Linked DNA regions of Homo sapiens: region 1 is linked to region 2. Evidence: fine-mapped expression QTL. A gene starts in region 2. The other region holds a variant in brackets. All regions are shown on one strand. Distances are between the middles of the regions.

Region 1 (2,924 bases), 23 kb before region 2:
TTCTTGCAGAACATTCAACCCTTGAAAATATTAGTTATTTCTAAACATTTTATAAAGTCAAAACAATGCCAACATAAATCCCAAAGGAGTTTAAAATTTGGGGGAAAACTTGGCCAAAAAATTTAGGTTATAGTTCACCTAAAAAATAATTATTGCTGGCAGGGCGCAGTGTCTCACACCTGTAATCCCAGCACTTTGGGAGGCCGAGGCAGGCAGATCATGAGGTCAGGAGATCGAGACCATCCTGGCTAACATGGTGAAACCCTGTCTCTACTAAAAATACAGTAAGTAAATAAATAAATAATTATTGCTAAGAAATATGAGCAATGAACATTGGCTGAAAGTATTCAGGAAAGCCTCAGAAGTCAAAACAGCCTGTAATTGCAGCACTTTGGGAGGTTGAGGTAGGCAGATTGCTTGAGCACAGGCATTTGAAGCCAGCCTGAGCAACATGGCAAAACCCTGTCTCTACAAAAAAATACAGAACATTAGCCAGGTATGGTCATGAGCGTCTGTACTAGCTACTTGGGGGGCTGAGGCAGGAGTGTTGCTTGATTACAAGAGGTTGAGGCTGCAGTAAGCCATGTTCGTGCCACCGCACTCCAGCCTGGGTGACAAAGCTAGACTCTGTCTCAAAAAAACATAAAATATATCCCAGTATAATGTGTATTAAAAGTGTGATACATAGACGGGAAAAGACTGAACAACAAAACTGTTCCAGGAGTGCTGAGAATTTGGCATGTGATAAATGTGACATTTGAAATCAGCATAGAAAAGTTAGATAATTTAATGAATAGTATTTGGGATAACTAATTTGTTAAGGGAAATATATGAGTTGAGTTGTATCCTCAAAAAGATGTGTTGAAGTCCTAACCCCTGGTACCTATGAATGTGATCTTAACTGGAAAGTGTCTTTACAGATGTAATCAAGTTAAGAGGAGGTCATACTGGATTAGAGTGGGACTAATCAATCCAATTGACTGGTGTCCTTATAAAGATCTGGACACAGACATACAGAGAAGAATGCCAGGTGACAAGAGGCAGAAATTGGAATAATGCAGCCATAAGTCAGAGAATATCAAGGATTGACAACAATCACTAGAAACTAGGAAGGGGCCCTCCACCCCTAGAGCTTTCAGATAGAATCTGGCCCTATTGAAACCTTGATTTCAGACCTCTAGCCTCTGAACTGTGAGATAACAAATTTCTGTTGTTTTAAGCCACCCAAGTTTGTGGTAATTTATTACGGCAGCCACAGGAAACTAAAACAAAAAAATAAAGCTGGATCTCTATCTCTGTCCTCAAAGGAAAAAAATCTAGATGGATAGAAGAATTAAATGTAAAACAATCATCACCAAAGACCAGAAGAAAACATGAGTGAAAACTTCTATCTTTTGGGGAAAGGGGAAGGGCTTTTTAAAAATAGAAGGAAATAAATAAATTTGACTTTATAAACA[A/T]CTTAAACATCTGTGTGGTAAGTCAAAAGGCAGGAAATTATAAAATAAATCTGTAACTCAGGGCAGATAAAGGGTAGTAAGAAAGATATAAACAGCCCATAAAAAAATGGACAAAGAACAAGATGAGTTGGCATGAAACTATAAATAAGATATAAAAACATGCTCAAATTTACTAAAGAAATGCAAATGCATTTAATGTGTAAAGTGTTTTACCGAGATTAAAGACTTATTTCAGTCAATTAGCTAGGGTGTAAAAACAGGTACTTCATTCACATTTGATGGGAGTACACATTGGTATAATCATTTTGGAGGGTAGTAAGTATTACCTCTTCCTTGGCTATTTCAATTATTTTCATATTTTTGCTTTTCCCATTCTAATGTGTGCATTGTTCATGTAGTTTTTTTTTTTTTTTTGTAATTTTCCCACAAGAGAGATCAAAGTCTGTTGAAGGATATTACTTTTGTGGAATGTGATATGTATGGGGTATCAGTTTGAAAAGCAATTTACAAGACATTACCCTAAAATCAGTGACTATACCAGTTCCACTGCAAACCACACCACTACTTTTTTCACTGATAGTATCTCATTTGTAATTTGCATTTTTAAGTGAAGAGAAATATCTTTCCAGAAACCAAAGAAATGTGATTTGCTACTCATGTAAATTGTATTTCATTTTTTTTGGTCCATTAATTCACAGATTCATATTAATTTCTGAATATTTCTATCCTCTTAGTAATTCCAAGAAATCCTTGGGTAACATATATATTAACTCTTGGTTTGCCTCTCACTGGGGATTCTTTCCACACCATGTAATTCTCAAGGTTCCATCCATTTCCATGGCTCTGCCCACCACCTTTATGCTAGATTCCTCAATCCACATGCTCTACAGCTAAATCTTTTCTTCTCAAACCACTTAGAACAGTGTTCTGCACACTGGGTGTTAAGCACTGAAATATAGACCTATAAGGACCATTTAAAAATATTATTTTTAGGGTTGTTTTAAATATTAAATATGAACAATTAGCAAATAATCCTATAGCATTAATGCATGGAAACAAGCAGTGGATATAAAAATATTCTGCTTAACTATGAAAGACTGCCTAAGTGCTTGAATAAATGAATACAAAAACGAGTTTTAAAATTCTTTATTTAAAAATCTCTAACTGTAATGTTTCATAAAAAATATACACGTTTCTATTTACATATTCCATTAATTCTATTAGTTTGAATTAGATTTTAAGTCCAATTTTGAAAAGCTTGCAGAATTTCTTCTGAAATTACTTAAAATTACTGTATGCATAAACTTACAAAAACATATGCTATACCAAGGCAGAGAAAAGAAAAAAAGTGAAGTGGCTACAAAGGTCCCTGGGGCATCACCTGCTCACCTAGGAACCAGGAGTACTGGATACTGTTCCGTTACTGGTAACCTATCTGGATGTAAAGGTTCATAAGTTACAATGCTT
Region 2 (2,924 bases):
ACCAAAACGTGGACCTTTCAAAGTCCCTATGAATCATAAATCATAATAAAAAAAAGAAAACTGAATTGAAAAGGTTTACTGTTTTCTCTGGAGCTCGTAATCACAATTACTCTGCACTTCAGAAAAGCCACCCTCAACATTTGTTTTCTAGGAAATGTCAATAAGCAGGTGGAAATAAAATGCTCCGAAGAACAAACCCGTACGAAGAGACCTACTGCCAAATCTGCTAGTGAGTGCCGGCAATCCACCACTTCCAGACTGAGACCTAAGACGGACTGCCACTTACTTCTCAGCTGCCACTTACTTCTCAGCTGGCGACATAATGCATACTTTCCTACCCTAAGCACTTTGAGTCCCCCCCCCCACCCCCGCTAAGAAAGAAGTATTTAAGCCACGAACTGAGACCACGATGCCACATGCTGATCAGGACACTCACAGTCATGCGTCACTTAACGATGGAGATCCGTTCTGAGAAATGGAGAAATGTCCCCTTAGGCAATTTCTTCGGGCAGTAGAAACCCAGACAAACCCAGATGACACAGCCTACTGCTCTTAGGTCATGAACCTGTACAGCCTGTCACTGCACTGAACACTGCAGGCAACCGTAGCATACTAGTGAGTATCTGCGTATCTAACCATAAAAAAAGGTACAGTAAGAAGACGATATTATAATCTTTGAGACCACGCTGTCCCACATTGACCAGCAACGTCCTTCTGCAGCGCATAATCGTATTTAAAAGTGGATTACAAGAGTCGGAAAAACAAGCGGCGTGATTTGTTGTGGCGGCAACCAGGGAAGAGGCAGGAGAAAGGCAACCGACGAGTTCAAACCACGGAGCCCCAGTCTCGCGACCCCACCTCGCGTCCCCGTCGCCCGCTCAGGGCCCGACGCAGGGGTCCCGGGCTAGGGCGACCTCGGAGAAGCGGGGCGGGGCTTCCCGGCTGGGGCGGATCCCTCCCTCCCTCTCGTCCCGACCCGGCCGCAGCCCTGCCGCGAACGACGGTACCTGAGGACGGCCCCAGATCCGCGGTGCCCATCTCAGCCCTGCTCACACCCTGCATGACAAGGGGTAGGAGAAAGAGGAGAGCCATGCTGCTACCGACGGTCGCTGGCTCCAACCCCGAGCGCCTGCGGGACCAGCCCAGCACTGCCCTCCAGCCCCGGCCTTACGTCACTTCCGTCACCGGGGTCTGTGCCGGCGTCGGCAGGAGGCGGGACCAGGGCGTGGGCGGGGTCAAGTCCGGGAAGCCGCAGGAGGCGGACTCAGGCGCAGCACCCAGCAGTGAGCACGGCGTCGTGCGGTCGGGACCTGGACTTCTGGGTGTGGGAGGAATTTGAGTGCAAAGGTTAAGGTCTTTCAACCTGGCACCCCATTCTGCAATTCTTCTTCCAGTTTTTTTCGGTTTCCTGGGGTTGTGCAAGTTTGCATTAGGCCACAGCCGAGCCACAATCCTTATTTTACTAACTCTTGGACTTCACCTGGTTGTCTTGGAGCCTGACATTTTTAGAAGAGAATGAGACTTCAAAAGCCATTTCCAGTCCCTGCTTTTTCATTTGAGGAACCTGAGACTTAGCTAGTGAAATGGTTTGTGCAGATTCCCACAGCCCAAATCAAATCGGCTTGACCAAGAACTACTTTGTTCTTGGAGAAAAAAACTATTTGCATTACCTTCTCAGCAATTCAGTGTCAAATCAGTTTATCAGGCAGCCTCTCATGAAGAGGTCTGCTCTCTTACCTCTCTGGGTTTGTCTGTTATTTTGCATCTCTCCTATTCCACTGCAGCCACATTGCTAAGTCCTTCAGCGCTTGTGCTCAAACATGCGAATGTCTAATGATCTCACCTGTTTCAATTCTCTGAGTATCATGAACTTTTGTTAAAAATTTTAAATTGCAACACACCTTCTCCTCCTCCTTACCCCGCCCTACTGTTTTTTCATGGCACTTTTCACCTTGCTGTACACTATAATATACACCTTGATATTTGTTTTCTTCTCCTTCTAAAATGTAAGCTCCGTAGAGCTGACATCTTTACTTGGCACTCAATTAGTATTTGTTGAGTGAAAGACTGCATGATTACTAGTGTTAAGGAAAATTTTTAAAGAGGGAAAATCCTTATAAAGACACTATATAAACTAGAGGTATTATCAGCCAGATCATTTTACTTGTATTAATAAATCTCTTAGCTCAGTACTTCTCAAACTTCAACATACATGTGAACCATCTGGGGATCTTGATAAAATGCAGATTTGGATTCAGTAGTTCTAATTCAGGTTGGGTCTTGAGATTTTGTATTTCGGACAAAATGCACAGGGGATGCTGGTGCCCCTTTCAACAGGACCACACTTTGAATCAGAAGAATTTAGCTCAATCTAGACTAAGTTTAGGGAGAATATTTCCTTTGATGTGTTTCTGATGTCCACTATATGAAAGACACCTTCTAGTCGTTGTAAGGATGCAAGGATAAATAACTGATCTTTACCGTTTAGGCGTCTATGGAGTAGGACAAAATATGATATCCAGTTTGTAAACATTTTTGTGGTACTTGTCACAGGCTGGGTTACCCTGGCAGTAAACTCTGAGGTCGAGATTAAGGTATAAGGCATTGATTGATTAGGGAGTGCTCTTGGAATAAACGTCTGTGAAGGGGAGGTGGAGGAAGCAGAGCGGAGGAAGAAGTTGATCTGTGATGCCATCCCAGTAAAGGCTCCCAAGGGGCGCTCTGGAGTTGGGATGGCCTTGTAAAGGTGTCTTGAGTTGGTATGAGGGGCTGGGTCTTAAAGCCCAGCACTGATTAGTCATTGAATACCAACTGTCATGATTTTGGGGCTGTCCATTTCTTTCATGGAGGCATTCCCCAGAGGAACGCTGACGGTTGAGGGTGTCTACTGGCAGCCCTCCTAGCATCAGGAAGGGGACAGAACC

The links.
Region 1: its variant is fine-mapped to the expression of IFNGR1 in whole blood (TOPMed, PIP 0.98).

What each region holds. Positions count from the first base shown.
Region 1 is chr6:137,194,897-137,197,820 of GRCh38, forward strand. IFNGR1 (interferon gamma receptor 1) reads right to left here. Exons shown (of 7, transcript NM_000416.3): 7 at 2,589-2,924. Among named protein-coding and RNA genes, the nearest start is that of IL22RA2, 23 kb to the left of the region's middle. The variant A/T (reference allele first, on the strand shown) is at 1,458.
Region 2 is chr6:137,218,236-137,221,159 of GRCh38, forward strand. It overlaps IFNGR1 (interferon gamma receptor 1), which reads right to left and starts at 1,150. Exons shown (of 7, transcript NM_000416.3): 1 at 1,008-1,150. The coding sequence starts at 1,092. RefSeq lists silencers at 331-380, 841-1,060, 1,101-1,330 and enhancers at 790-1,520, 1,371-1,620.